6 separate regions of the Homo sapiens genome follow, and all the other regions are reported to be linked to region 6. The links are microRNA targets in miRTarBase. Many come from high-throughput screens and were not tested one by one. Region 6 holds a microRNA gene; each other region holds the end of a gene's coding sequence.

Evidence for each region. The annotated mature microRNA hsa-miR-6837-3p reads CCUUCACUGUGACUCUGCUGCAG and lies in region 6 at 2,526-2,548, shown strand. An mRNA with a match to its seed (bases 2 to 7 or 8) in the 3' UTR can be bound and repressed. Matches are read on the target gene's strand: a 7mer-m8 pairs with bases 2 to 8, a 7mer-A1 pairs with bases 2 to 7 and ends in A, and an 8mer does both.
Region 1: miRTarBase lists B3GALNT1 as a target of hsa-miR-6837-3p. Seed matches in the 3' UTR shown: 8mer at 3,641-3,648.
Region 2: miRTarBase lists MKKS as a target of hsa-miR-6837-3p. Seed matches in the 3' UTR shown: 7mer-A1 at 1,206-1,212, 7mer-m8 at 900-906 and 7mer-m8 at 240-246.
Region 3: miRTarBase lists APOL4 as a target of hsa-miR-6837-3p. Seed matches in the 3' UTR shown: 7mer-A1 at 4,046-4,052 and 7mer-A1 at 3,955-3,961.
Region 4: the mRNA of ZNF785 is a reported target of hsa-miR-6837-3p. The part of its 3' UTR that is shown has no 7-base or 8-base seed match.
Region 5: the mRNA of MYO9B is a reported target of hsa-miR-6837-3p. The part of its 3' UTR that is shown has no 7-base or 8-base seed match.

What each region holds. Positions count from the first base shown.
Region 1 is chr3:161,081,119-161,086,176 of GRCh38, forward strand. B3GALNT1 (beta-1,3-N-acetylgalactosaminyltransferase 1 (Globoside blood group)) reads right to left here. Exons shown (of 5, transcript NM_003781.4): 5 at 2,765-5,058. The coding sequence ends at 4,641. Among named protein-coding and RNA genes, the nearest start is that of B3GALNT1, 22 kb to the right of the region's middle.
Region 2 is chr20:10,400,938-10,406,010 of GRCh38, forward strand. MKKS (MKKS centrosomal shuttling protein) reads right to left here. Exons shown (of 6, transcript NM_170784.3): 6 at 72-4,750. The coding sequence ends at 4,310. Among named protein-coding and RNA genes, the nearest start is that of MKKS, 31 kb to the right of the region's middle.
Region 3 is chr22:36,186,950-36,192,022 of GRCh38, forward strand. APOL4 (apolipoprotein L4) reads right to left here. Exons shown (of 4, transcript NM_001386885.1): 4 at 2,179-4,963. The coding sequence ends at 4,126. Among named protein-coding and RNA genes, the nearest start is that of APOL4, 12 kb to the right of the region's middle. RefSeq lists an enhancer at 3,152-3,653.
Region 4 is chr16:30,577,839-30,582,911 of GRCh38, forward strand. ZNF785 (zinc finger protein 785) reads right to left here. Exons shown (of 3, transcript NM_152458.7): 3 at 2,818-5,073. The coding sequence ends at 4,722. It also overlaps a transcript of ZNF688 not described here. Among named protein-coding and RNA genes, the nearest start is that of ZNF785, 5.3 kb to the right of the region's middle.
Region 5 is chr19:17,211,783-17,216,855 of GRCh38, forward strand. It overlaps MYO9B (myosin IXB), which reads left to right. Exons shown (of 40, transcript NM_004145.4): 40 at 113-1,504. The coding sequence ends at 528. It overlaps USE1 (unconventional SNARE in the ER 1), which reads left to right and starts at 3,575. Exons shown (of 8, transcript NM_018467.4): 1 at 3,575-3,725; 2 at 4,020-4,069; 3 at 4,210-4,288; 4 at 4,387-4,539. The coding sequence starts at 3,624. RefSeq lists enhancers at 3,215-3,795, 3,559-3,878 and a silencer at 3,899-3,968.
Region 6 is chr7:44,049,282-44,054,354 of GRCh38, forward strand. MIR6837 (microRNA 6837) reads left to right here and starts at 2,485; the gene lies at 2,485-2,548. DBNL (drebrin like) reads left to right here. Exons shown (of 13, transcript NM_001014436.3): 2 at 944-999; 3 at 2,549-2,661; 4 at 3,586-3,660.

The DNA.
Region 1 (5,058 bases), not on the chromosome of region 6:
ATCTCTACAAAGTTTTTGAATAATTAGCCAGGTGTGGTGGCACACGCCTGTAGTCCCAGATACTTGGGGGGTGCTGAGGTGGATCACTTGGACCCAAAAGCTCGAGGCTGTAGTAAAGCTATGATCGTGCCACTGTATTCCAGCCTGAGCGACAGAGCGAGACCGTCTTAAACAACAAAAGTGACTGAGGATGGGAGGCAGCCCCTGCCTGCACAGAAGAAAGCGGGATGGTGGGCACGTGAGGCTGGGGGCTTACCGGCAAACACAGCATTTGGCCTGCACCGCAGCAGCCTTTGCTCATAACATTTTGATGCCACTTTTTACCTTTACCTAAATTTGTTAATGTATTTGTTAAAACATCTGTGTTATAAAAATGATTTATCCTCATTGTTGAGAATGTAATAAAAGGTACTTTTAAAGTAGGAAGAAATCTTTTGAGAGGCATTTTCTGTTCAAATTTTGTTATATTTTCATCCTGTTTCTGTAGTTTGTACATATGTTGCAAGAGAGGGAAGAGTGGCATTTAGAACCATCACAGCAGCTGCTGCAACCTTTTAAAAGAATGACAAAATTTATCTTTAGAGAAGTTGATTTCCTTTTATCTGGGAAATGCCTTGAATGAGTTTTTTTGGGGGGAGTGTGGGGGGGGAGAAATGTTAAGCAGCATTCACCCCTGCCTTGCTTCCCACATGGTCTGAAAGGAGAAAGTGAAACAGAAAGAGGGCTAAGTGGAAAGGAGTTTTGGAAATTACTCGTTGATAACCTCAAGCAGGGGTAAGGCCCGGCATGTATAGAGGAGTGGCCAGATGTGAGGAGAGAAGTCTTGGCCCCGGGGCCACAGACAATGGGAAATTTCCTTGGTGAGAAATGTTTTAATTATCGTAAGAAAGCATCCCCAAAGTTGGCAGCATTAGGCAAAAATTATTTCTTACATTTCTGGTTTACAGGGCCTAAATTGGGGTCTGTTGCAGAGTTGTCTGGCATTGTCTGAAGGCTCCCTCTCCCTTTCAGACACTGAGTGTGGCAGCTTACAGTACGACTGCACTCAGTTTTTCATTCCCCATTCTGTGGAACAATACATTCCTGCATGCTGCAACATCACTTGCAGTTACTTCCTGCAAGAGAAATATACTTCCCCACCTCAGTGACACTGGGCTTGGCAAGGGATTCATCTCAGCCAGTGGATGTATTAATATATGCCACTGTGCTTCCACCAGCTTTTTAATTTCCTTCTATAAGAACAGCATGTTCCAAACGGGCTGCCCATCAGCCTGGATCCTGGAATGAAAAAGACATAGAGCAGGGTTGCAGCCAACCACTGCCATGCAACTGAGTGAAAACATTGGTTGTCATCAAGTCTGAGATTTGGGCGTTACTGTAGCATTTGTGACCCTTAGCAAAGCTAACTAATGTGCTAAAAGTCACAAACTCAACACCTGCAGACAAGGAAAGCAAGTGAGGCAGAGGGTGTGTGAAACTATGGGGATGGCAGGGCTAAGGCAGATGGGACCAAATCAGCCCAAGGATAAGCTCCAGTATTAAACGTTGTTATATGAGTTAAAATTTTTAAAGCTGCTGATTTGGTTAAACACCAGGTCATGATTTTAATAACACAGCTAATATTTACTTCCTGAAAGCTTAATATAGTTGAAAACAAAAAATATAATGACCCAATCTCTTAATGTTTTCCTAATCATTTAACTTTGTAGGTTCTTTTAGGCACCAATCTTCAGTTCAAAAGAAACAATCTTCTGAAACTTGTTTGTTTTTTTTTTGTTTTTTGGTCTTTTCTAAAAGTGAAAGGGAATTATTTTTTATGTTAAAAGTTCTCTCTAGAAATGTTTTGAGTTAGCTTCCCAAACATCGATATACAGAAATGTGGCACTTAGCAATGGAGATACATTCTGAGAAATAGGTGATTTTGTCGTTGTGCAAACATTAGAGTGTACTTACACAAACGTAGATGGCATAGCCTACTATACACCTAGGCTACATGGTAGAGCCTATCGCTTCTAGGCTATAAACCTGTACAGAATGTTACTGTACTGAATACTTACTGTTGGAAACTGTCACACAATGGTACTGGTGTATCTAAAATAGAAAAAGCACAGTAAAAAAAACCAAACAGTATAAAAGATAAAAAATAGTACACCTGTATAGGGAGGGCACTTACCATTAATAGAGCTTGCAGGGGTGGAAGTTGCTCTGTGTGAGTCACTAAGTGAGTGGTGGGTGAATGTGAAGGCCTCAAACATTACTGTGCACTACTGTAGACTTTACAAACATGGCACATTTAAAGTAGGCCACACTAAATTCATTTAACAATTTTCTTTCTTCAGTAATTAACCTTAACTCACCGTAACTTAACTTTACAAACTTTCAAACTTTGACTCTTTTGTCAAAGTTTTTTGACACTTAGCTTAAATTTAAAACACAAACATCTTGTAAAACTGCACAAAAATATCTTTATATCCTTATTCTGTAAGTTTTTTCCTATTTTAAACTTTATTTTTCTACTTTTTAAACTTTGTTAAAAACTTAAGACACAAACACACACATTAGCCTAGGCCCACAGGGTCAGGATCATCAGTATCACTGTCTTCTATCACCACATCTTGTCTCACTGGAAGGTCTTCAGGAGAAATAGCATGAATGGAGCTGTCATCTCCTATGATAACAATGCTTTCTTCTGGAATACCTCCTGAAGGACCTGCCCAAGGCTCTATTAAACATTTTTTTAATAAGTAGGAATAGAACACTCTAATTATAAAAAGTAAATACACAAACCGGTGTCATTTATTGTCATTATCAGTATTACATACTGTACATAACTGAATGTGCTGTACTTTTATACAACTGGCAGTGTAGTAGGTTTGTTTACACCAGCATCTCCACAGACACGTGAGTAATGCACTAGGCTATGACATTAAAACGGCTAAAACATCATGAGGCAATAGATTTTCTGCTCCATTATAATTTTATGGGACCACTATTGTATATGTCATTATGCAGTACATAACTGTAATCTTCTGCAAAACCAGTCAAATCTAACCATGCCACAAAAATAACTACCACCATCTGTCTTAAAGAACGTGACTCCTATATGGATGGAGATTAACAAGGGCATAGATCGATTCTATAGAATATTTCATTTAATTGATTTTATTATAACTGGATTAGGTCTGAGCCCTGGGAAACAGACATCACCTTGTTATACAGAATCACACATTATAGTTTTAACTGAAGTTGTTTTTCATATAGGACAATCATAAATATGAGTATTACAAGAGCTGACTACATACTTTCAAGTTTATATTTCCTGACAAAGGATATGACCTTTTTCCATCCTGTAATTCAGAGAAAAAGAACCACTTGCCCTATATAAACTCTAAAAAGAAAACTGCATAAACCCAGGAACAGGGGGCAAGGAGTGCTCCCCTTTGACCTACTATTAGCAGGTCCAACAAATGATATATCACCACGTCTATGAAGAAATTTCTTTCTATAAAAGCACAAAATTTAAATCGGATTTGACTTTACATATTAGGGCTTTCATCTTGATGAGAAACTCATAACAGCAGCAGCTCAAACTGATTGTTAAAAGGAAAAAACACAGGGCAGATTAATAATGCAACTTGGATCTTCACTCTTCTCTTTCCAATTCAAATGCTGGAATATGACACTCTTTTTATAATATTCTGCCCATGAGGTTCTCTCCCTTCTTTTCTGCCTTCAGAGTCCTTTCCAAAAGGAAATTACTGCCTTGCATTCTACATTATTCCTAATTTCCAGGTGGAAAAATGAGACAAATTAAGTGACTTCTAAAAACACTAGGAACTGTATTTTTTAAAAACAAGACAATACTTCAGATTTTCTTGCTTTAATTCTTCTCTATATTACCACAGTAAAATATTTAACAAAGTCCAAGAGATTACTGATATGCAATAATGACCTATGACTTTACATTAATGGAGTGATGTATCAATAATAAACTGATCAGTTAAGTAACTGGAAAATGTTTGCATGTAAAGAATGATTCACTATCCTTTTTATCTTGTATTGAAATCGTCAAAACATTTAAAAACACAAAGTTGAAGTAATTTTAAATAATAATAACTGTGAAATACTGCAACATCTTGAAGTACTTTATAAATGACCAAAAACAGGTAAAATTTTGTTCAGTATAACTTCAGTGAAGAAGTTTTTTGACACAGAACTACATATATTTTTAAATTGGTAATCCACATAAGATATACACAAAACCTTCAAGTGACTACATTGTTCAATAAATAAAACTCTACATTGTTTTGTTTTTACAGCCTAGTGAGCTTATAACTCAGTAACACCCTTTTAAGAAATTCTAGTCTACAGAATGACATGTCCAAATTGTTTGGTCCTATTAATTTCTTTAGCAAAAACCTCCAATTCCTTTATATTTAATTCCTCCACATATCATCTTTGAAGGGCCTGACTAATAAATCACAAGTGTAACCCTCCAGTCTCCAGTCTGGGTTTTTCATGAGTTTCAGTTCAGTGTAAGCCAGCACACTGACCTCCCCATGAATTTTCCACAGTACCTACTTTATTTAACACTTTCCACAAAGTATCCTGTCCTTCTAGGCTTTTTGTAGAATGTGAAGTTAATAATGGCATGTGGTGTTCCTTAGCATGACCTGCCAAAAAGTGATGATCTCCTTGGAAGAAAAGCCATGGGCTGCAATCACACGTCTCAGTTGACAGACATCCAAATGGATTCTATATAGAAAGAAAAGATTTGTGTCTTCTGGAATATGAATGTTCACTTTTAATAAATTCAAACAGATCCCGACATAAACATCTTCAAACTTGATGGGTTTTACGTGACCCATCATTTCATAGATCCTTGGCACCAAATCTCTGGACATTATATAACCCAACCCACTGCAGTATGGAGGGAACACCTTGAAAGGATACTCCTGGTAAGAAATATGGGTTTTTTGGTAAAATCCTCTATAGGAATAATTATCAATTAGAGGATAACCTGTGAAAAACTTCTCTGAGTGGTTTAGGTTTAAAAGA
Region 2 (5,073 bases), not on the chromosome of region 6:
CTATCCTATCTGCAAACAGAAAGGGCTCAATTAATACTTCCCAAAATCAAACCACAATACTAGAAACAAAATCAAGATGGCTAAAATAAGATGTTTATTATAAGTATTTTCTCAAAGAGAATTTTTAATAGGAGATTGTCAAGCTGTTTTATTTCCCTCTAAATTCACACTTCATTACAGGTAATATAGTATTCTATGGATTTTAGTGCGCCAAGACTAATCGTCTCTCCAACAAACAGCTTCACTTACATTTAGGAATAGTTTTCAGGGATTGCATTCTCTTTCATGAATATTACTATATTCTTAGTAAAGCAGCATATAAATCTACTTATAATCCAAAAGTAGGCTAACATTGGGTTTAGGTGCATCTAAATTCAAATTCTGTAGATGATTGGCAAAAACTTCCATTATGGGATACAATAGTTACTAAATGGAAGCACTTAGCTACATGAAAAAAATTATAAAGATATCAGATATTCAAAATTGACTTTTCCTTCAGATTAAGAGATAGCTTTATTTAGACAGCTGAAACAGGGCCTTGTAGGAGATGTTTAGTCTCTTTGACTATTCCCCAAAGATTATCAGGAAGGAATAACCTAACTAATTGTATGTTTTGTCAAGGCCTGCATTGATTTTTTACATGATAATTTTAAATAACCTGCATAATGTATGTGATGGTAAACAACATTATTTTATTTTAAAGTTATCCAAAGAACTGCTCAACAATATGAACAACAATATGAAAATACATAGTACAATGGCTGATTTATGGTTACTTCAAATTTCTTGTCTACAATGTAAATGCCTAAGTAGCTTTGATAATACAAACCAAATGAGTTCAAGGATACCTATAATAAAAGATATTAATGTGATATAGTTTAAATATCTTGTGTAAAATACTTCACTTACATAAAGTGCTTCAGTCTAACAGTTGACTTACAATGTCTAACATATAAAGACTCTCTAATATGGTACAAATGGAAGAATTAAAGGGTAGGATATCTATAAGACCAAATAAGTATTTGATTAAAAGTTTCCTTTATTTGCTGTAGCTCTCCACTTTCTTCCTTGCTGCTAAAATCCTAATGCCTTTTGATTAATAAGATGATAATCCTGTTGGACTCCTATGGTTGAATAACGTTTAATGTTACATGTCCTGAGAGTCCCACGAAATTATTGAGCAGCTGTCACCGACTTCATTTTCTTCTTCACACTCTCCCTTTCCTTTTCCACAGCGATCACGGTTTCCCATTCTCTCTCCTGAGGTACTTCATAATGCAATATTCAGACCTCAATCTTACTTTAAGTCACAAAACACTGCCTGAGGCTTACCTTAGTTGCTATTTTTACTTATCATTTATTTCTGCCAAAAGGAACTCCTCTAAAATTATTTTCATCAAGAATTTTCATTTCATGTTTTATCATCTAAGTTTGAACGCTAATTTTCTTGAACTATAGAGGAAGGTTTTTTTTCTCTTTTTTTCTATTTCCAGTGTTTTCTGCTAGGGATTATTATAACTTTAGGAAACATAGAGGTATTTGTAAATATATTTTAACGAATTTGTGATATATTCAAAATAAGAGCATTGATGTTTCACTAAGGAATGTAATCAAATTGTATGGCAAAGCTAAAAATGATAGAATTTAAAAAGTGGCTATCGTGAAAAGTAGAAGCCCCTAATCTATAAGATCAATTGGAGAGGTTCGCTGTGTCACCCCTTCTTGGAGGAACTTGAAAAAATGCAGGATAAGGGCAAAGAGAACCAGGACAATACCCAACTCCTATGTGACACATTGTAAACACATGTGATAAAGAACCCTTCTTTTAGGTTGGGGTGATGATAAAAATGCAAAGGCATGGCATCAAGAATGCTTTTTTCCATTTATGTGACCAAGTTTTCAGTAAATAATTTATTACAAATAAGCTTTTCCTCCTGCCTTTATTAGATAGCTATTGCTGTATAAGAAAGTACATCCCAAATTTGACTTAAAACAACATTTATTATCTCACAGATTTTGTGGGTTAGGAACCAACCTGGGAGTAGCTTAGCTGGCTTTTTTGCATCAGGGTCTCTCGTGTGGCTCCAGTGGTAGGGCTATACTCAACTCAAGGTTCCACTGGGGAGAACCTGCTTCCAAATTCACTCTTGTGGTTATTGGTACGATTCAGTTCCTTTTGAGCTGTTGGCTAGAAGCCTCCCTCAACCCTTGCTATGTGGGCCTCCCCAGGGGGCAGTTCCCAACATGACAGCTGGCTTCCATTGAGAGAGAAGGCATCAAGAGACAAACTCATCTTTTTACCACCAAATATCAGAAGTGATATCCTGTCCCTTCTGCTGTATTCTATTCATTAGAAGCTAGTCATTAGGTCCCACCTACACCCAGAGAGTGAACCACCAGGAAGTGAGATTATTGGGAACCATCTTAGAGGCTGCCTACCACATGCAAAATACGTCCCCCCTACTCCTCAGATCCTCAAAAGTTTCACTTTTGCATTACAACATCAGCTCAAAGTTCAGAATCTCATAATTGGAATCAAGTCAGGGTGATATCATAACTGGAATCACCCCAGGCTTCCTCAGGAGGTAGTTCTTTAAGTACAGTTCCTGGAACACAGTTGCTTTCCATCTGTAGACCCATGAAACTAGAGAAAAGTTATCTGCCTTCTACTCACAGCATAAAATTATGGATAAGGCATAACCATAACCATCACCATAACATTCTGTCCACAAAGCTGGGAAATGGGAGACATAAAGGAGTCACTAAGTCTAGCCCATGCTCAAGGGGAGGAAATTATGCAAGGTCTGAAACTAGGAGGTGGGGCCACCTTAGAGGCTGCCTACCACACTGCCCTTCTATTTGATTGTAATAATAAAAGGAGTAAAACTTTTGATAAATATTTTATGAGACTTCAGGTGGGGCTGATACCTAACATATATGGATGGCATTGCTGCTTGTATTGCTAGTTTTTTCCTTTGGCTCAGAGTAAAAATTCTTTTTGATTACAAGAATATCAGAGGAAATTGTTTAACAATTCTATTTCTCTTTATCATGGCTATAGATCTGATCATTGACTATTAGGTTGGTTTGTTTCCCAAAAATTTCCAAAATATTTTCCTAAAGTTTAATACAACATTTGTTATAGCTCCATGCTTATTCATGTGGCTGCCTTCTATATTTCTTCTTCAATTTATCAATACATCTTATATTTGCATAAAATTCAAACTACATCCCTTGGTGAAACATAATGTCTCTACTTTGAACATGGGAGATTTTCTACTTTCTTTTTCATACTATTGACTAGAGAAATAACTTCCCCTTCCCTTTATGCTGCTTTCTGAAGTCCTGCTAGAATACTCCTTATTGTCCTTCCTTTTTCTATCAGTCTATGGTTCTCAACCAACAACAGTTTTGCTCTTCGGGGGACATTTGGCAATGTCTGGAAACATTTTTGGTTGTCACAACAGGAGGGTGCTACTGGCATCTAGTGTGCAGAGGCCAGGGATGCTGCTCAGTAAGCTGTAATGCACAGGGCAGCCTCCGTACAACAAAGAATTATGGGGCTCAGAATGTCAATAATGCCAAAGTTGAGAAACCCCAGTGTAAAACAAACCAGTCCTTCTTCCCACTTTAAAAATGAAGACATTACAATGTTGCTTTAGCCTTGGTTACTATATAAATCTACTTTTTCCCCCCAAAAGCAAACATTTCCCCAAAATAACAAAAATGTGGAGTTGTGATATAAACTACAAATTGCAGGCAAACCAGGTTCTACTCAATTACCTAACCACTGAAGAATATAGCTTGAGATAAAGGGCATGGAGAAAAGTGAAATTTTACTAAATGTGCAGTTTGAATACTTCTTTTGATTGAGCAATATATACTGAATGTTTTGTGACACTTTGAGATCTAGTTTTATACTTTAAGCATATGTAATTACTGCTAACTGGAAAATATCTAAAATATGTATATCCAAACTAGAGCATGGATTAGGAGTCTTTTTTATTTGTTTGCTCTCAAAATGATGCCAACATAACAAAAATTTAGAACAATGTACAGCAGCCAGTATAGAATCCCTAAGATAACTATAATATTTTTAAATAAATAATGCTTCATATTTTTATTGTTTCATGGCATTTCCATTCACGAATCACCTTTTTTCCTAAATAAGTGTATCTATAATTTTATGAGTCATTTGTCCAAATATGTAGAACAGGGCTTTGGGAGAAAACAAATACACTCACAATTTTTCTCAATTGCCAACAGACTAGTTTATTTGTTTCTCTTGTAATACGAACATGCTATTCTCTTAGTTTTTATCTTCAATAACATATGAAAGATCCAAAATCAAATTGGCTGTCTCTACAGCCACCTGTAGGCCACTAAGCTTTGCAGTCAAACAGTCCAAGGTCAGGTTGCTGGCTGAGCCCACAGCTTCATGTGGAAGGCAGCTTTGTGGCACAAATGGACGACGTGTGCTTCTTAAGAAAGACCAGTTGAGTTCTTCCTGGCTATTGTATAATCCACAGCCACACTGTGAAAGCAAATCTGGCCAGTTAGCAACACAGGGAGAATCTGCCTGAACTGACCAAAGGTGTCCATACTTCATGTCAGTGAGAATTTCACCTCCATCATGTTCTAAAGAGCCAACAACAGATTCTAGGGCACTGCAAAATGCTTCAGCAATTAATTGAAGTTCTGTTTGAGTACATTCATCATCTTTGAGAATGCTTTCTGGGTCGTTGTGAGTCTAAAGAGTAATAAAAACATTGAAAACACATACAAAGCAATTAATATAAAATGTTTCAGAAAAATAAGATACTGAAATCAAAATCTTATTCCTAAAGTAATTACTTACTTTCATTTAATTTGGGGTCTGGCACAATGCTAACGGGCTTGTATGGGTCAGCCGGCCGGGTTGCAAACCCTTAACTAGGTTGGTTATAGTAAAAATGTATTAAAAATGTATATACTACCAGTCATGTTACCAGAATGAGTGAATCAGAATAACCCCACCATCAGCTTATTCTGAATGAGGCTTGGTAGTGCCTCCTTAATACATGAAGGACTAGG
Region 3 (5,073 bases), not on the chromosome of region 6:
GTTTGTGTCTCTGTTACTCATCGCTGTTCCTGATACCATAGCCTGACTGATTGGTTCAAGAACAGTCACTGACCCAAGCTATCCTCTCATTTGAGAATGTGAAACTTTAATCAGAGACACTAGGAATCAAAGTGTGTGGAGCTAAGCCAGGTGCAGGCAGAGCCCTGAAAGGGCAAACCATATATTCCTGATGTTGGTAATGGTCTGCTCCTGTCCTTCCAAATTCTGTAGATTTTGTTCTTCCTTCCATCCTCTGACCTGCTCTAGTTTTCATCCAATGAATCTTCTATTTTGTTTAAGACAGATAGTTTCTGTTTCTGTTGCTTGCAATTGAAAAATTTTTAAACAATACTAGCAGTACAGTGGAATTGCATCAAATGCAGGTAGCCTGATGGCATTTCAACTCTAAGTGTCAGGGCAAATGCTGGCTGGATCACTGAAGAAGTAAATTACTCAGTGCCAGAAACATTCAAAGCTTAAGTGAAATGTATGAAAAGAATGGGAATTATCCAGGAATTGATGAACAATTGACAGACAAATGAAACACAATGTTCTGGCGTTAGGCAAGTCGGTGGCCGTTGCTCTGTTGACTTCTTCAGGAAGAAATAGATGAATCAACTGAAGGTCAGGGAAGCCTTGGCTGATGGAGAGTTACAGGGACTGAGGCAAGTGTTCTGCAGGATGCTACATAAAAAAGGACTAAGTAGGCCCTGGGTGCACTTTACGAGTGACTTAGGAGAGGTTCTGGGGTGATTTTGTGCATTCTGTATCTCTTGCCCCTGCTCTGGGCTCCAGCTGAGGCGCCCAGCAGTTCTATATTCTATGCATGGAAATACAGATAATTAATGTCCACTGGGGCAAGGCCATGGGGGACAGGAGCAGTGGTTACAGGCCTCCCTCTCTCCTCCCTGTAGAGGAACATTCTGAAGACGCTCCTTGAAGACTCCTCAGGAGGTCTCCAGTCGCCCACATGGGTGACCCTATCAAGAATTTCTCCCGGCATCAGCCTTCTGTCCTTCTCTGTGTCACTCCTCCCAGTACCCCAGTCCTGCTCCTAGAATCACTTCCCAAACAAATCCTCTGCCTGGGAGCCTTGCCTAGGGCTCTCCCTTCAGGGGAACTCAGGCCACAGCAGCCTACATTAGACAGCATGAAGGCTCTGGGCTTTTGTGCTAAGAGTAATAGGAAGCCATTGAAGACATGGAAGCCGGTGTTTGATGAAATCTGTGTTTTTATGGGTCAACTTGGCCCAATGTGGAGGAAGAGCTGGCCTAGCGGCAAGGGCTGTGTATCAGCGAAGACCATTTTGGAAGCTTTTGCAGGAGTCTGGGCGAAGTGAGAAGGCTGACTGGATGAGGGTGTTTGCAGACTGGATGAGGGTATTTGCTGTCTGGCTGTCTCTCTCTGTCCCTCTATGTCTCATGGATTTTCCTTCAACCTACATACAGGCCCTTCTGATCTTAGCCTCATGTGACCCATGTCAATCCTGGGCCCTGGCTGCTAGATCAGGACCACGCCTGTACTAGAGCCAAGCCAGAAGTCTACAAGTTTTCCCTGAGTGCTTCAGGGGCCACTGGGCACTGGGTTCGCAGAGAAATGAGCAGTCTGGAGAGTAAGCAGAAGGGGCCATGGAGGCCTAGCTCCCTGAGAGCCTGGAAGAAGAATCATGAGGAAGAGAAGTCAGGCACCCAGAGCCTAGGGGAGCCCATATATCAACACACAAAGGCTCAGTCATCAGTCAGTGTTGCTTGAACACAAGTCTCTAGAACACAAGAGAAGAGGGCCAGGTGGATGTGAGATATCATCTTGTCCAGCCCCCCTTTCCCAGCTGATGAGGAAACTGAGGCTCAGAGAGATGGGGTCTCTTGACTGCAGGCTGGTTCATCTCCTCAATGCACCACAACATTCCTTGACTTGTTCCTGGCATCTGGTTTTGCTTTTATTTTTCTTCACACATCAACGTTTCCAATATAGCATTTGGAGTTTCATTGAAATGTCATCGGTCCCTCAGTGTACGCTGGCCCCAAGCAGGGCCGACCCCATGTCAAGTCCTCTTGCTGTCTGCTGACATCACCACAATCACCTTTACCACTGTTAGGACAAAAACTTGAGACAGGAACTTGCCCTCAAAGCGGGAAAGGAGCCATGAGACCAAGGAATGACTTAAACAAGTCCAGCTTGGCGAGTAGCTAAGTTTATTAGGACTTACACACAGGGCACTCAGCAAGACAGCTCGAGAGATCCAGCCTCCCCCAATGTCTAAACTGCTTTTCAGTTAATTTTCTGGCTCTTTGTCTACTATATATGAGCAACGAGACTTTTACTTGGTTGGTTCTCAGATACTCTCCAGGATGTTTGGATTCTCAGAGACACCTGGTCCTCAGCTGGGCACCATGGAAATGGCTCATTACCCGGCCTTCAGGGTTCAAGCAGGGGACATGCACCCTTAAATAACCTAAAGGGGACCTGTCACACTACAACCACCACCACCATCATCAAGAAGCCACTGGCTGACTCAGATACACCCCCGGGAGGACAAGGGAGAGTGGATGCTGGTAAGACAGGGTGAGAGACCATCACCAGGGAAGGATTCCATTCTTGGAAGGACATCCAACCGGGGGGCGGGTCTTTAGTGGAGCCGCTGTTTCTTCTCCTGTATCCAACAGTTCTAACTGTGGCTTTCTCCATTTTCAGCTCTTTCTTTTCCTGGTCTTCTCATTGCTTGTTCCTACGTGCCTCCCTCTCTTCCTCCCCCAATATACTCTTTAGTCTAGAGTAAACTGCTTCTTTCCATTCCCCACACTCTCCAGTCCCCTCTCCTCCCTTATTCCAGGCCCCAGCATTTCTGCCTTCTCCTTGGCGCACTTGCCATCTTGAGTAACCCCTCCCCTGCTGTGCTCAGCTACAGATGCCAAAGTTCCTAACACTGAGTTCCATAAACTTTACCTCGCCCTCTTTATTCCCCTAAAAAATGTCTGCGTTTTGTCCCGGCCTGTGTCTGGCTCACCTTCCCTGGTGGCTGCACTGCTCTGGGGTCATTGGGTATCGGGGAACCTGCCCCGATGGTCACGTAGGTTCTTTTCTATTTTCCCTAAGTGTTGGCCGGTTTGAGAAATAAAGGCACAGAGTACAAAAGAGAGAAATTTTAAAGCTAGGTGTCCAGGGGAGACATCACACATCGGTAGGTTCCGTGATGCCTCACAAGCCGCAAAACCAGCAAGTTTTTATTAGGGACTTTCAAAAGGGGAGGGAGTGTATGAATAGGGTGTGGGTGTGGGTCACAAAGATCACCTACTTCACAAGGTAATAGAATATCACAAGGCAAGTGGAGGCAGGGCGAGATCACAGGAACACAGGACCGGGGAGAAATTAAAATTGCTAATGAGGTTTCGGGCACCATTGTCATTGATAACATCTTATCAGGAGACAGGGTTTTGAGAGCAACCGGTCTGACCAAAATTTATTAGGCGGGAATTTCCTCTTCCTAATAAGCCTGGGAGCGCTATGGGAGACTGGGGTTTATTTCATCCCTACAGTCTCGACCATAGAAGATGGCCACACCCAAGGAGGCCATTTATAGACCCACCCTCAGGGGTGCATTCTCTTTCTCAGGGATGTTCCTTGCTGAGAAAAAGAATTCAGCGATATTTCTCCCATTTGCTTTTGAAAGAAGAGAAATATGACTCTGTTCCACCAGGCTCACTGTTGGTCAGAGTTTAAGGTTATCTCTCTTATTCCCTGAACAATTGCTGTTATCCTGTTCTTTTTTCAAGGTGCCCAGATTTCATATTGTTCAAACACACATGCTCTACAATTTGTGCAGTTAACGCAATTATCACATGGTCCTGAGGTGACATACATCCTCCTCAGCTGACAGGATTAGGAGATTAAAGTAAAGACAGGCATAAGAAATCACAAGGGTATTGATTGGGGAAGTGATCAGTGTCCATGAAATCTTCACAATTTGTGTTTAGAGATTGCGGTAAAGACAGGCATAGGAAATTATAAAAGTATTAATTTGGGGAACTAATAAATGTCCATGAAATCTTCACAATCCACGTTCTTCTGCCATGGCTTCAGCCAGTCCCTCCGTTTGGGGTCCCTGACTTCCCGCAACAATTGGGCCTAGCCTGCTTTTAGACTCTGATGGATATGGGTGAGCTCATTGAGATTCTCCTCCAGCTCCTGAGCCCACTGCCTCAGCGACTCAGCAGACTCGGATTTTGCCCCCTTGTGCAAGTCCAGTGAGTCTTGCACAAGGTTGACTACATCCAGCACAACAAGGACACCTGAAGTGGCCTTGCCCAGGTTCCGGGCTACTTTTCTCACTATCCGGGTGGGGGCCCCACGTGTTCTCAGTGTCTCAACAACATTTATAGGTACATATCGCCAAGCAATCAAAGGGCGTCCAACAGTGGCTTTAGATCTCCTGAGTGTATGGACATCATTCGCAATCATTTTTGTGGCTTCGTCAAAATCAAGTGCAAAAGAAAGCACATTGGGTGTGATGTCACGCAGAATGTCCCTTAATGCCTCCAATTGGTCAGTGCTGGTTGCAGTCAGCCTGCTGGCTGTGAGTTCTGCTGACCTTGTGTATGTGTTCTCCACGATGCTGGAGGCGATCCCAGCCGTGGCAGATGCTATTCCCAGCCCTACCCCAGCTGCAGTAATGCTCAGGCTCAGCCCTGCTGTAAATGGTGCCAACATAACGCCAATGACAGACAGGATGCCAGTGGAGCCAGACACCACATTGGCGATGACGCAGCCTCTGTGGACCTTTTCAATCTCATTTGCAATGACACGAAGCCTTTCTATGGACTCCTGAATCTTCCATCTGATTTGAGGAAACTCTTTCAAAAACCACTCCCTAAACTGCTGTTCTTTTTGCTGCATGTCTTTGTCCTCAATAGCCACATATGGTGTAAGATTCTTCAGAGCTTCATAGAGAGCATCTGCCTCTTCCCTGTACCAATAAAGGACAGATGATTAAGAAAGGCAGCTTACTTACCTGTAAAATGAGCTCAATAAGATCTATTCTGCATAAATCACAGAGCTGTTTCTATAAGTCAAATG
Region 4 (5,073 bases), not on the chromosome of region 6:
TTTGTATTTTTAGTAGAGATGGGGTTTTGCCATGTTGGCCAGGCTGGTCTCAAACTCCTGGCTTCAAGTGATCCACCGTCCTCGGCCTCCCAAAGTGCTGGGATTACAGGTATGAGCCATAGCGCCAGGCCTGAAACAAACTTTCAAGTAAGACTAAAACTGTTCCGTGTAGCTGATGAGTTGTTTTTCCTGCCACTCATTATAAAAATACAAAAATTGGCCGGGCACAGTGGCTAACACCTGTAATCCTACCACTTTGGGAGGCTCAGATAGACAGATCACTTGAGCCCATGAGTTCAAGACCAGCCTGGGCAAAACCCCATCTGTACAAAAAATACAAAAATTAGCTGGGCATAGTGGCATATGCCTGTAGTCCCAGTTACTCAAGAGGCTGAGATGAGAACGAGAAACACCTGAGCCCAGGAGGTCGAGGCTGCAGTGAGCCGTGACTGTGCCACTGCATTCCAGCCTAGGCTATAGTGAGACCCTGTCTCAAGAAATAACAAGAACAACAAAATGCTCTTGCTTTCAAATTATTTTATTGCCCATCAAATTGTAAATGTTTCTTCAAGACTCTTGATCAGATAATTATGAGAAGTCACACAACATACAGGAGATGACTGGGCTTCAATCGACTTTACTTGTCAATAACAGAGTACAACTGAACTTTAAGTGGGAGCTGAATTTCTTTCTTTCTTTTTTGAAACAGAGTTCCACTCTTGTTGCCCAGGCTGGAGTGCAATGGCACGATCTTGGCTCACTGCAACCTCCGCCTCCTGGGGTCAAACGATTCTCCTGCCTCAGCCTCCCGAGTAGCTGTGATTACAGGCATGTGCCACCATGCCTGGCTAATTTTGTATTTCTTTTTTTTTAGTAGAGACAGGGTTTCTCCATGTTCGTCAGGCTGGTCTCAAACTCCTGACCTCAGGTGATCTGCCCACCTTGGCCTACCAAAGTGCTGGGATTACAGGTGTGAGCCACTGCGCCTGGCTCTTTTTTTTTTTTAATAGTGTCTTGCTGTTACTCAGACTGAAGTGGCGCCATCATAGCTCACTATAGCCTCAAACTCCTGGGCTCAAGCTATCCTCCTTCTTCACCCTCCCCCACCATGCTCGGCTAATTTTTAAAATTTTTAGTAGAAATGAGGTCTTGCTGTTTTCCAGGCTCGTCTCAAACTCCCAATCTCATGCAATCCTCCTGCCTCAGCCTCCCAAAGTGCTGGGATTACAGGTGTGAGCCACTGTACCCAGCTGAGAGCTTAAGTTTCTTGCATAAAACTCAGCTGTATGCTGAAGTGTTTAGAAGTGAAATGTAATGATGTCTGCAACTTACTTTGAAATACATTAATAAAATGGATAAATGAATGGATAGAGGGATGGATAGGCAGATTGACATGTGTAAAACAAATAGAGAAAAATGTTATTTGTAGAATCTAGGTGATGCTAAAGGCCACACAGCCAGTGGGGACTGAGCCAAGCTAGGAATCCAGGTCCACCAATTCAGGAGAGGCTATGTGGTGAAGTAAAGATAACACCCCGTTCCCAGTTTTTGTATCTGTTTTTGTTTTGAGACAGAGTCCTGCTTTGTAGCCCAGGCTGGAGTGCAATGGAGCCATCTCAGCTTACTGCAACCTCTGTCTCCCAGGCTCAAGTGATCCTCTTGCCTTAGCCTCCTGAGTAGCTGGGACTACAGGCATGTGCCACCACGCCTGGCTAATTTTTTGGTAGAGATGGGGTTTCACTATATTGCCCAGCTGGTCTCAAACTCCTGACCTCAAGTGATTAACCAGCCTCAGCCTCCCACAGTGCTGGGATCACAGGTGTGAGCCACCGTGCCCGGCACCAGTTCCCATTAATTATCTTGGAACCCAAGGATTCAAAGAAGCAGTCTTTTCAAAGAGATATTTGAGTCACTGACCACCAGTCCTGGAATGCAGAAATGCTTAGTCCCACCTACCTCTTTTGTTCATTCCTTCAAAAGTTTCCTCTTCAAAAGTAGGGCTAGCAGATCTAAATGGGCCAGAAAGAACTCTCTTAACTGTTGTTTTTTGTTTTGTTTTGTTTTTTGAGACTGGAGTCTCACTTTGTCGCCCAGGCTGGAGTGCAGTGGCGCGATCTCAGCTCACTGCAAGCTCCGCCTCCCGGGTTCATGCCATTCTCCTGCCTCAGCCTCCCCAGTAGCTGGGACTACAGACGCCCGCCACCATGCCCGGATAATTTTTTGTATTTTTAGTAGAGATGGGGTTTCACTGTGTGAGCCAGGATGGTCTTGATCTCCTGACCTCGTGATCCACCCACCTCAGCCTCCCAAAGTGCTGGGATTACAGGCGTGAGCCACCACACCAGGCCTTTTTTTTTTTTTTTTTTTGAGATAGAGTCTTGCTCTGTTGCCCAGGCTGGAGTGCAGTGGCGCTATGTTGGCTCACTGCAACCTCCACCTCCTGGGTTCAAGCCATTCTTCTGCCTCAGCCTCCCAAGAAGCTGGGATTACAGGTGCACGCCACCAGGCCTGGCTAATTTTTTTTTTTTTTTTTTGAGACGGAGTCTCGCTCTGTCACCCAGGCTGGAGTGCAGTGGCGCAGTCTCGGCTCACTGCAAGCTCCGCCTCCCGGGTTCACGCCATTCTCCTGCCTCAGCCTCCCAAGTAGCTGGGACTACAGGCACCTGCCACCACTCCTGGCTAATTTTTTTGTATTTTTAGTACAGACGGGGTTTCACCATGTTAGCCAGGATGGTCTCGATCTTCTGACCTCGTGATCTGCCCGCCTCGGCTTCCCAAAGTGCTGGGATTACAGGTGTGAGCCAACGTGCCTGGCCGTTTTTTTTTTTTTTTTTGGTATTTTTAGTAGAGATGGGGTTTCACCATATTGGCCAGGCTGGTCTTGAACTCTTGACCTTAAGTGATCCACCCTCCTCAGCCTCCCAAACTGCTAGGATTACAGGCGTGAGCCACCGCGCCTGGCCTTCATAACTGTTGACATACAAGCATTACAGTAAAAATTAGACTGGAAAGACTATGCCTTGATTTCAACTTTAATCACAATTAATTTATTCTTTCTTTAAAAAAAAAATGTAATCCCAGAACTTTGGGAGGCCAAGTCGGGTGGATCACCTGAGGTCAGGAATTGGAGACCAGCCTGGCCAACATGGTGAAACCTGTCTCTAGTAAAAATGCAATTAGCCAGGCATGGTCGTGGGTGCCTGTAATCCCAGCTACTCAAGAGGCTGGGGCAGGAGAATCGCTTGAACCTAGGAGGCGGAGGTTGCAGTGAGCCAAGATCATGCCATTGCACTCTAGCCTGGGCAACAAGAGCGAAACTCCATCTCAAAAAAAAAAAGAGGCTGGGTGCAGTGGCTCACGCCTGTAATCCCAGCACTTTGGGAGGCCGAGGCGGGAGGATCACGAAGTCAGGAGATCGAGACCATCCTGGCTAACACGGTGAAACCCCCGTCTCTACTAAAAATACAAAATATTAGTTGGGCGTGGTGGCGGGTGCTTGTAATTCCAGCTACTCGGGAGACTGAAGCAGGAGAATGGTGTGAACCCAGGAGGTGGAGCTTGCAGTGAGCGTAGCTTGGGCCACTGCACTCCAGCCCAGGCAATAGAGACAGACTCTGTCTCAAAAAAAAAAAAAAAAAAAAGAATCCTCCGGCATTATATCTCCAGCTACTGTGGCCCAAGAATATATCTTTATCAAAAAATACAAAATCCAGGGAACATGCAAATATCTGAAGAAGAAAAAAACACTGCAATCACTAATGCATACAGTGAAGAGTTGGCCCAGTTCCAGAGTCCGCTATGTTTGATAGTTTGTGCACTTGCAGAATGAGAGTGGGGGGGGAGTTCCCCACCTGAGGCCACTGTCCTCTCTATGGCCACCTCTAGGTCTTCAAGACCAAGGAACACCTACACTCCAGGTGTCTCCTTGCCAGATGTTTCACCTGCATTGGTAAAAGGCAGAATCCTCGGCAGGGGTCGGTGGCTCACGCTTGTAATCCCAGCACTTTGAGACGCCGAGGCGGGTGGATCACGAGGTCAGGAATTCAAGACCAGCCTGGCCAAGATGGTGGAACCCCGTCTCTACTAACAGCACAAAAATTAGCTGGGCCTGGTGGCGCATGCCTGTAATCCCAGCTAATGGGAAGGCTGAGGCAGAGAATGGCTTGAACCCAGGAGGCAGAGGTTGCAGTGAGCCGAGATCACGCCACTGCACTCCAGCCTGGGCGACAGAGCATGACTCCATCTCAAAAAAAAGAAAAGAATCCTGGGATGAGCTCCGCCCCCCCCACCAGCCGAGGGACAGGCCTGAGGTATCCCCTCTATTCTGGGGGGTCCAGAGTGGGTGCAGGCTCCTTTAATAGGCACTGGAATGTAGGGGACCCCATCTCAGAGGAGTAGGAGAGATACAGGCCAAAAAGCAGAGAGCTACAAGGGAGAGAACAATCATGAAGGAAAAGCCAGTTAGGTGAATGGTTTTCAGTGAAGGATGGGACGTGAACACGGGGCCCTGTGTGCTGGAGCTTCAGAAAATGGGGTCAACCCCCAGGCACCTTTTCAGATTCCTGCCTCCTCCCCACAGCCCTCTGTGCCCCTACCTCTGCTTTTTACCTAAGGCAGAACTTTGTTTTCCTCAAACGCCCACTTCCTTTCCTTATCCCCCAAATACACAAACCTTGCCTCTTCCTCTCCAGGGAAACGCTGACCAGTTTGTGTGAACGCCATCACCCACACTCTTGAAATATATCTGGAAAGTGCCGGAAGTGAACTGGGGGATCCTTGCCTCCCAAAACAGGGATGGGCTCTGAACGCCCCACCACGGCCTGCTGCCACGCGCGCCTCTCGCTGCAGGAGCGGTGGATCCACCGATGGGCTTCCAGGGCGGTCTTGCGCTTGAAGCCTTTCCCACACTCCACGCAGGGGAAGGGCCGGCTGTCGGAGTGAATGCGCCGGTGACTGAGGAGGAGGGAAGAATAGGTGAAGCGGCGGCCGCAGTCAGGACAGGGGTAGGGCTTCTCGCCGGTGTGTATGCGCCTGTGGATGGCCAGCAGGGAGGTGTAGGCGAAACGGAGGCTG
Region 5 (5,073 bases), not on the chromosome of region 6:
TAAGGTAGCGTCTGCTTTTCTCCTTCCCGTCCATCCCAGCAGGCCCCAGGGCGAGGGTCCTCCGGCTGCCGGCCCTGAAGCTGCAGTAACCCTGCCATCTGTCTCTCAAAAGGGCCCCCTGCGCCTGCTCTCCCTTGCCCCGGCGCGCCCACCCCGAGCCCCCTCCCCACCGTGGCCGCCCCTCCACGACGAAGGCCGTCGTCCTTCGTAACGGTCAGAGTGAAGACCCCCCGGCGGACCCCCATCATGCCCACGGCCAACATCAAGCTCCCACCAGGCCTGCCCTCCCACCTGCCTCGCTGGGCACCGGGTGCCCGGGAGGCGGCTGCCCCAGTGCGGCGCCGGGAGCCACCTGCCCGCCGCCCGGACCAGATACATTCCGTGTACATCACGCCCGGGGCAGACCTGCCAGTGCAGGGCGCCCTGGAGCCCCTAGAAGAGGATGGCCAGCCACCTGGGGCCAAGCGGAGGTACTCGGATCCCCCAACGTACTGCCTGCCCCCCGCCTCGGGCCAGACCAATGGCTGAGAGCCACAGCTGACAAAGTCTGCATGTCCGAGGACGGCCCCTGCACTGGAGCTGGGCGCCAGAGCTGCAGAGCTAGTGTTCGGCCCTCAGAGAAGGATCCAGAATCAAAAGCTCAAGAGTGACGTGAGGTGGGCACCGGCCCCAAGTGCAGAGTCAAGGCAGGGAGAGGCCGGCTGGAGCCAGGCCCCCTCGCACGCAGCCCCCAAATCATGGACGCACCTGTGGGGAGCACCACATCTCCACCTGCGGCCTCACATCTCCCCACTCCCCTTTTTGTACGTTTAACTGTTTCTTTGTACGTGGTTTACGTAACTTTAAACTGTAACAGCCTTAATGGAAGACCAAATGGTTTTTTATATGTGTATGTACAAAGTTTTCTATTAACGCTGCCCGTCTCCCTTATAACCTGGACGTGAGCTGTCAGAGCAGAAGCCACTAGGCCACTGCGCGTCTGAGGCTCAGACCCTGCTGTGGTTGGCTTGGGGTGGCCAATGGGCTGGGACCCTCCATGAGAGTTTTGGACACTTGGGTCACCTGACCCGTGCCTCTCTGACACATGTCTCCGGGGGGCAGCCACCTGGCCAATGTGCATTTTTGCACATGCTGGAACCTTCCATGGGGGTCTGGGCTATTGGCTGGAGCCAGGACATGAGTCAGGGGCACCATGGACCTCACGTGCCAGGGAGACTTGAATGTGGCTGTCACTCTTCCGGACGCCAAGGGCTGCAGGAGGCTGCTTTTGGCACTACCCACCCCGTGTGACAGAATAGGAGCCAGCGACTCAGGACTGCTCACGGGTCAGGAGGGCAACGCCTGAAGTCAGACCTCCCTATAGGTCAACAGGGACAACCTGGGGATCTCTGGAGCAGGGCCCTCCTCTCTCAGGCTTGGCCCACTCCCCCAGACACCTGGACACGTGGCCACAAATCTGGGACAAGGGGCCCCCGCACAGCATGAAATAAAAAGTGCCTGAGAAGTGTGTGCATGGGACGCCTGCTCATATGGGATCGGGCTTGGAAGAACAGGGCCGGTGGGTGGGGGTCTGCCCTGTGGCCTCAGCCAAGAAGGGTGCAGAATATGGGTGGAACACTGTCCTCAAAGTTCTGTCTTGATCCTCCACCAAACAGGGAGCTCCCAGCAGAGCCTCACTTGGCCAGGAGCGCCTGCTGTCCTGGCAGCCCTCTCTGGCCTCCCTGATTCAGTGCCCAGCCTCTGGAGCCTAAATGTCAGCTGCAGCAGCCACCCATCCAGCAGAGGTGGCCAGTTCCTGGTGGGCCCAGCAGGACAGGAACAGATGGGCTCCCAGGCTGCCATCGGATGGGAGTCGTGGGAACTGGCTGGCTGGTATTGGTTGGGGCACCGTGAAGAACCCAAGTTCAGACAGCACATGCCAGAGGTTGAGGGGCTTCTCCAAGGCCACACAGTTGGGAGGGGCATGGCTGGGATTTAGACTCTGCCCTGCCAGCCTCTAGAGGCCCCTTTGATGGGCCCTGGGTTTGGTCTCCATTGTTTGTTGTGGGTTTTTTTCTTGAAACACGGTCTCGCTCTGTCACCCAGGCTGGAGTGCAGTGGCGCGATCTCGGCCCACTGCAGCCTCCACCTCTCGGGTTCAAGCGATTCTCCTGCCTCAGCCTCCCGAGTAGCTGGGATTACAGGCACGCACAACCAAGCCCAGCTAATTTTTGTGTTTTTTGATAGAGACAGGGTTTCACCATGTTGGCCAGGCTGCTCTCCAAACTCCTGACCTCCAGTGATCCATCCACCTCACCCTCCCAAAGTGCTGGGATTACAGGCGTGAGCCACCGCACCTGGCCCTCCATGGTATTTTCTTTTTTTTTTTTTTTTTTTGAGACGGAGTCTTGCTTTGTTGCCCAAGCTGGAGTGCAGTGGCACAATCTCGGCTCACTGCAACATCCACCTCCTGGGTTCAAGCGATTCTCCTGCCTCAGTCTCCCAAGTAGCTGGGATTACAGGCACCCACCATCACGCCCGGCTAATTTTTGTATTTTTAGTAGAGACGGGGTTTCACCATGTTGGCCAGGCTGGTCTCAAACTCCTGACCTCAGGTGATCCATCTGCCTCAGCCTCCCTAAGTGCTGGGATTACAGGTGTGAGCCACCGCACCTACCCGTCTATGATATTTTTCAAGGACATCAGGCCCACTGGTGTAACCAAGGTGCAGATGACCTAAGGTGTGGGAAAACATGAAGGCTGCATGCCAGGCCCTGGTTCCTGTGAAGCCCCCACCCTCATCCTGTCACTCCAGAAGAGAGGCACTGCAAGGCATAGGGGTACTCAGCTTCCAGGTACTGAGGTGGGCTGGGAAGGGGTTCTCCATGGGGGTCTGGGCGTTAGGGGGGACCCAGCCCCACCTTGCTCACTCTCAGGCAGAGCTGTCTCATGTGCCCCTTGAGGCAGGTACTGTCACACTGTCCATTTCCCGGGGGAAGAAGCGGATCCAGAAAAGTTAAACTCTCCCAGGGCCGAGGATGGAATCAGAGCTGGAGCTGTGACCTGGAAACCCATAACCACAATACAGATGAGCCCTGCTGAGGTGGGGGAAGCCTTGGATTCCTGAATCCCAGGCTACAGAAATCGGGAAGGGTGTGTGGACGTGAAATAGCTCCGACTGGGAAGAATCCAGGTAGGAGTGGGGTGCGGGGAGGTACTTTGAGCAGGCAAAACAGAACAAAAGGGCACACTGCACGCGGGTCTGACACCAGAAGACCCCGGTCGTCCTATCATTCCCGAAGGGTTAACATGCTCTCGAGGAAAAGCAAGTGATTCGCCTAAGTAAGAATGGGGTGGCGCCTCTCCTATTTTTTTAAAATAGAGATAGAGTAGCGCTATCTTGCCCGGGCTGGCCTCAAGCAATCCTTTCCCACCTCTGCCTCCTAAAATGCTGGCATTACAGCCCTGAGCCACCGCGCCCGGCCCAGCGCCCCGTCTCAAAACAAGATATTACTTCCGCTCCAAACAAAGATGGGCCAGCTAACGAGCGCGGGGGAAACATCCGCCCGGAAGGCCACTTGAAGGCACTTCCGCCCTCTCTTAACATGGAGCCGGCGGAAGGGGTGGTGTAGGGCCGGGCGATAATGGCGGCGTCGAGGCTGGAGCTAAACCTGGTGCGGCTGCTATCCCGCTGCGAGGCGATGGCAGCGGAGAAACGGGACCCGGACGAGTGGCGCCTGGAGAAGGTGAGGGGATCTCGCACTGCCGCGTAGAGCCCGACTCCCGGGGGGTGATTCCTAGGGTTGGAAGCCACCTGGCCCGACTCCCCGGCCCCAGTAGCCTCTCGGGCAGCGCCCTTTCCGGTCAGTCCCGCCACGTCCACCTGTAGCTTCCGCCCCCGTCCCTGGGACTCCGCCCCTCCCCCACTGGCCCCGCCTCCTTTACGCTTGACCCCTCCCATTTGTCGGCCCCGCCCCCCCGACTCCCATGATCAGGACATGGGAAAGACCCCCGGGTGACAATCCACTTTTCCTCCCCAGTACGTGGGAGCCCTAGAGGACATGTTGCAGGCCCTGAAGGTCCACGCGAGGTGAGTGCAGGCAGCCTCAGGGCTTTCACATCAGCACGTGGCTGTGCTACTGGACATCCCAGTACCGCTATCCCAGCTGGGACCCTTCCCTGAGCTGGGGACCATGGACAGGTTTTGTTTTTCTTCTTCCTGCCTTCCAGCAAACCGGCCTCTGAGGTGATCAATGAATATTCCTGGAAGGTGGATTTTCTGAAGGGGATGCTGCAAGCCGAGAAGCTGGTGAGAAGGGGTGCCCCTGCCCCCTCAGCCCCCATCACCGCTCACTTTGGTCCCCAGGACCTGCCCCTCCAGTGACTTATCTTCCCACATTTCTGCAGACCTCCTCCTCAGAGAAAGCACTGGCCAACCAGTTCCTGGCCCCTGGCCGTGTGCCAACCACAGCCAGAGAGCGAGTGCCCGCCACAAAGACGGTGCATCTGCAGTCACGGGCGCGGTACACCAGCGAGATGCGGAGTGAGCTACTAGGCACGGTAGGGCTCCTTCCCTGGTCCCTGGGAATCCCTTGGACAGGAATAGGGGTTCTATGCTTGTAGGCAGCCAGAACCACAATACTGTCAGATACAGGAACCCTAAGGGGGTCCAGCAATCTCTTCCCTGGGTCATCACACAAGGCTGCCCAACAGAGGGGCATTGTGGCTAAGGCTTTGCTAGATGAATAGGAATTTGGTACAAGGCAAAAATGGAATGTGTCTGGTTAAGCCCCAGAGTTGGCCCAAGAGCAGGGTTTGAGTCCTGGCTTGCAACTTACAAGACACATAAGTTTCTTCAGCCGTAAAAGAGGATGACAAGTTCCTTTCTGAGCACTTTATGTGGATCAGCTCAATCTTTTAAAATATGAGTTGTTGTGGCCAGGTGCGGCAGCTCACGCCTGTAATCCCAGCACTTTGGGAGGCCGAGGCGGGCGGATCATTTGAGGTCAGGAGTTAAGACCAGCCTGACCAACATGGAGAAACCCCGTCTTTAGTAAAAATACAAAATTAGCTGGGCATGGTGGCTCACGCCTG
Region 6 (5,073 bases):
GAGTAGCTGGGACTACAGGTGCCTGCTGCCACGCCCAGCTGATTTTTTGTATTTTTAGTAGAGATGGGATTTCACCGTGTTAGCCAGAATGGTCTCGATCTCCTGACCTCGTGATCCACATCTGCCCGCCTCGGCCTCCCAGAGTGCTGGGATTACAGGCGTGAGCCACTGCGCCCAGCCCAAAGTTCTTATGAATAATTAATCTTTCAGGAAAAGAAAGCCATGGCCCCATGTCACCCATGGAGAGATAAGGCTCTGCTAGATAGAAAACTTGCTCATGGGTACCTGTCCGTGAGGGGCTTGGCAGGTTCATGGCTTTAACTGTGTGATTTCATGTCGTGTCATTCCTTTGTGGTTTCTGATAAACACAACCTGTGGTAGTCTGTGTTTACCAAAGAGTCTCAAGCCTGGAAGGACCTGCTGCCCTACCCACCAGGCTTCACTGGAGCCAGGGCAGACGTGCACAGGAGTGGTGGGCAGCCTTCCAAGGGGCCCAGTGTGTGTATTTCTCCGACTTGCTTCTCCTTTTGGGTGCTCTGGGTTCAGGAATATGTAGATATGTTTTGTCTCTTCAAATCCATATACCTAGTGGCCAGGTGAGTATTTGACACATGAATGTATAGCAGTCATTGGGAAACTCCACAGCTCATGTTTTCCTCATAGTAGATGTGTGCTCCCATCTCCATGGCTTTGTCCCTCACAACCCCCACCCCATGGTAAGTCAGGCCAGTGTCCTCCCAGCTGCAGAGCTGAGAAGGCTGCACAGTTGCCTACTGAGAACCTGCCTAGTGGGTCAGAGCAAAGTGAGAACGGGCCTGTGCCCACCCACAGTGTTACTGTCAGCCCAAGCTCTTTGGGATGTAGTGGAAAGTCATGGTGGATACGGTGAGGAGAGATGGAACCCAAGGTGCTGGCTACAGAGCTCACTTGTGTTTCGTTTCAGGGCTCTCTTTACCTATGAAGGCAACAGCAATGACATCCGCGTGGCTGGCACAGGGGGTGAGTATGACTCCAAATGGACTCAGGGACACCAGGAGGTAGGAGGGTGACGACGAGGGGTCAGCGCACTCAGCTGTCTTGGTCCACTGAGCCACATGGGGCTTCCAGTGCTCACTGGCCACTTCTGGCAGGCCTTAGGTTTCAGATATGTGTAAGTGAAAACATTCCTCCTTGGTTCTCCTTCCCTCTGGGTGCAGGGGAGTGCTTTCTCTTTGTCTACTTGGGGAGAGCTGAGAGGGAAACAGGCCTCTCCAGCTTGTGGGCAGCCTGCGTTGGGAGCTGCGGTGGGAAGCTCACCAGTCCCAGAACTGGTGCTGGTGGAAAGAAAGTCCACAGACATATCTTCTTCTCCCTTTGTCCTGCCCTGGTCTTGTGCCGAGTGCTTGCAGGGGCCCCATCCTCACTGGGAGAGGCAGTATCACTGCAGATAGTCACGGGGGAGGCTCTGGAGGTCTCTACAGGAAGGACAGGCTCTTGGCCAGCACAGAGCAGAGGTTGTCAGGGTAGGCTTCGTCAGAGTGTGACCTGTGGGCCCCTCAGCTGACACCCGTGACTGCTCCTCCTCCAGAAGTTGCCTGACCCCTCCCTCTGTCCTGAGCTGGACATGGCTTCATTGTTCAATGAACACTCGGAGTGGTTCTCCACGGTTTGATGTCTGTTGTTGGTAGAAAGCCCCTTCCTTTCACAATCTTTCTGGGAGGTGTCCCCTTTCTAGAAGGATTGCCATTGAACAGTAGACATGTGGTGTGGCAGGTGACTGGGAGTTGCAGAGATCAACAACTTGAGAGTTTCCTGTCATCCCCAGTGGCACAGGACAGGGCTCTGCCACAAATGCAACAATTTGCTGTCCCCAGAGTGGGGCTCATGACTGCCTCCACTCATACGGAGCCCTGTAGATGAAATACCTGATCAGCTCTTCCTCCTTATAACCTGGAAAAGTTTGTGAGGGCTAAGCCTCAGTGTCAGGGAGAATTGTTTAGAGCTGCCCACTCCTGTGCTCCCCCTGTCCCCATCACCCTCTCTTCTGGAGTCTGAGGACTGAGCCAGTTACGCCACTGCAGGATGTTCAATCTGGTCTGGCCGTCTGGGTGGCCCTGGAACTTGAGCAGACACAGGTGCAGGCAGTGGTGACTCTACAGGCCCTGCTATTCCGGGCCCTTTTGCAACGTTGTGGCAACAATAAAATTTTGACGTAGCCATCCTCCATTTGGAAGTCTGGTGGCTGGTTTGCCGTGGAAATGACCCTGTTTTTATTTCCAGAATTACCTCTGGGTTTAGAGAAGTGGTTTTTAAACGAGTGTGGGTAAAAAAAATTACCTGAGGTACTTGTCAGAATCGCAGACTTCTAGGTCCCACCCAGCTCTCATCAATCAGTTTAGTGAGGGTGGTGCCCAGGACTCTGATTTTAAACATACCCCTAGAAAGATTCTGATACAGGTAGAGGTGAGAAGCCCTGGTTTAGAAGCAGCTCGGCCTCCCTTCATGGTGGGACCAGGGCCAGCAGGGAATGTCAGGGCCACCCCTGACCTTCACTGTGACTCTGCTGCAGAGGGTGGCCTGGAGGAGATGGTGGAGGAGCTCAACAGCGGGAAGGTGATGTACGCCTTCTGCAGAGTGAAGGACCCCAACTCTGGACTGCCCAAATTTGTCCTCATCAACTGGGTATGTGGAGCCTGTTTCATCTAGGTGTGACCCAGGAAACCCCATTGTCTTCTTTCCTGTTTTGACTTGACTTCAGGAACAAAGTGTTTTACTGGCATGACTTAGTAGATCAATAGAACAGCTCTGAGCTGGTGAATGAGCAGAATAGTTGACAGATTCATTGTGGCCCAAAGAATAACTGTGGCTTTGCTATGCAGAATTCACCTTCCAAGCCTAGAGTTCTTCCTGCAAAATGGATTAAAAGCAGTCACAGGGAGTCCTTGCTCCGTGCTCTTGAGGGTGGTTGTTCTGATGGAGTAGAGAGCCTGAGGGAGTGTTTAGGAGCCTGGGAGTACAGGGACAGGGCCTCCTTGATCCCTTGGTGGGGATCAAGAAAACTCTTGAAGGCTGGGTGGGGTGGCTCACACCTGTCATCCTAGAACTTTGGGAGGCCGAGGTGGGTGGACTGCCTGAGCTCAGGAGTTTGAGACCAGCCTGGGCAACATGGTGAAACCCCATCTCTACTAAAATACAAAAAATTAGCTGGGCATGGCAGCGTGCACCTGTAGTCCCAGCTACTCAGGAGGCTGAGGCAAGAGAATTGCTTGAACCCAGGAGGCAGAAGTTGCAGTGAGCCAAGATTGCGCCACTGTACTCCAGCCTGGGCCACAGAGCAAGACTCCATCTCCAAAAAAAAAAAAAAAAAGAAAATTCATGAAATGCCCCCACAGCGAAAGCCGGTAGCCATCCTGCCCAGGGAGAATCCATGAGCCCCTTGGAGGCATGGGAACTTACCTCACCCATGTGATGCAGTCAGAAGAATAGGTTCTGCTTTGGGGGTTGCAGTTTTCTCTTTTCTGGGACACAGGGTAGATGTTGGGTCCCCAGGGAAGGGAAGTGGCTTTGGGGGAGGCCTGGGTCAACCTGGGCATCCTTGTGTTGCAGACAGGCGAGGGCGTGAACGATGTGCGGAAGGGAGCCTGTGCCAGCCACGTCAGCACCATGGCCAGCTTCCTGAAGGTAAGGCCAGGTGAGGCCCGCTTCACTGGGAACAGGCCTCACAGGCTTGAGGTCTCGCAGGTTCCTGGGTGCGAGCAAGTGGGAATCAGAACTGGAGTTGGGAGTGTGCTCATAGCTAATGCTCTCTGCCTGCCTTTGAGGGCATGACCAGAGGCTGCTTCACTCTCGGTCAGTGAGTGCATGGGAGGTCAGGATGTTGCCAGGGCCACCTACAGGCCTGCCTCAGTGGGGCAGGATAAAGGACTATGCTGGAGCTGGTGCCGTGAGAAGGGTGGGCCCTGGTTCTGTTTTGTTTTATGATCCCTCTAAACAGTTTAGTAATACCGTCAGGATTTGGAGGAAGGGGAGAGTGCCCACCATCTTAGCACGCATGTGCCCTTTTGATGCATTCCTTTCCAGCCCCCTCTACATGGAGTTATGTCAGTCCTATAATAGAACCTTTTTAAATTTTAAAAACTATTTGTAACAAAAGCATTTGTTGGTCACTTGTCAGGTAACTTTTTGCATTTCTCTGGCAAAGGAGACTCAGAATTTTGATTTCTCGTTCTGCCAACATTTCTTCAGCTATACCTCAGTTTCCATCTAGGAGCTGATAAGAGAATTCCCAGCTTATCGATATACAGGTTTGAGTATCCTTTATCTGAAATGCTTAGGACCAGAAATGTTTTGGATTTTTTCAGATTTGGGAATGTTTTCAGTTCAGCATCCAAAATCCGAAATTCTCCAGAATCTGAATTTTTTTTTTTTTTTTTTGAGACTGAGTCTCGCTCCGTTGCCCAGGCTGGAGTGCAGTGGCGTGATCTTGGCTCACTGCAAGCTCCGCCTCCCGGGTTCACACCATTCTTCTGCCTCAGCCTCCCGATTAGCTGGGACTGCAGGCACCCGCCACCACGCCCAGCTAATTTTTTGTATTTTTAGTAGAGACGGGGTTTCACTGTGTTAGCCAGGATGGTCTCGATCTCCTGACCTCGTGATTTGCCCGCCTTGGCCTCCCAAAGTGCTAGGATTACAGGCGTGAACCACCACGCCCAGCCCAGAATCTGAGATTTTTTGAGTGCTGACATAATGCTTAAAGGAAATGTTCATTGGAGCAGTTCAGATTTTGGAATTTTAGGTAAGGGATGCTCAACCTGTATAGCAACAGTGAATGACGTCATGGGTCTGGCTTCTTATGAAGAAATCATTGGCTTACTTTTTGTAGAAAACATGCATGGCATTCTTTTATCAGAGTTTTTTTTAATTGTTTTGTTTTTTGTTTGTTTGTTTGTTTTGAGACAGTCTCACTCTGTCACCCAGGCTGGAACGCAGTGGCACGATCTCGGCTCACTGCAACCTCTGCCTCCCAGGTTCAAGTGATTTTCCTGCCTCAGCCTCCTGAGTAGTTGGGATTACAGGTGCCTGCCACCATGCCCG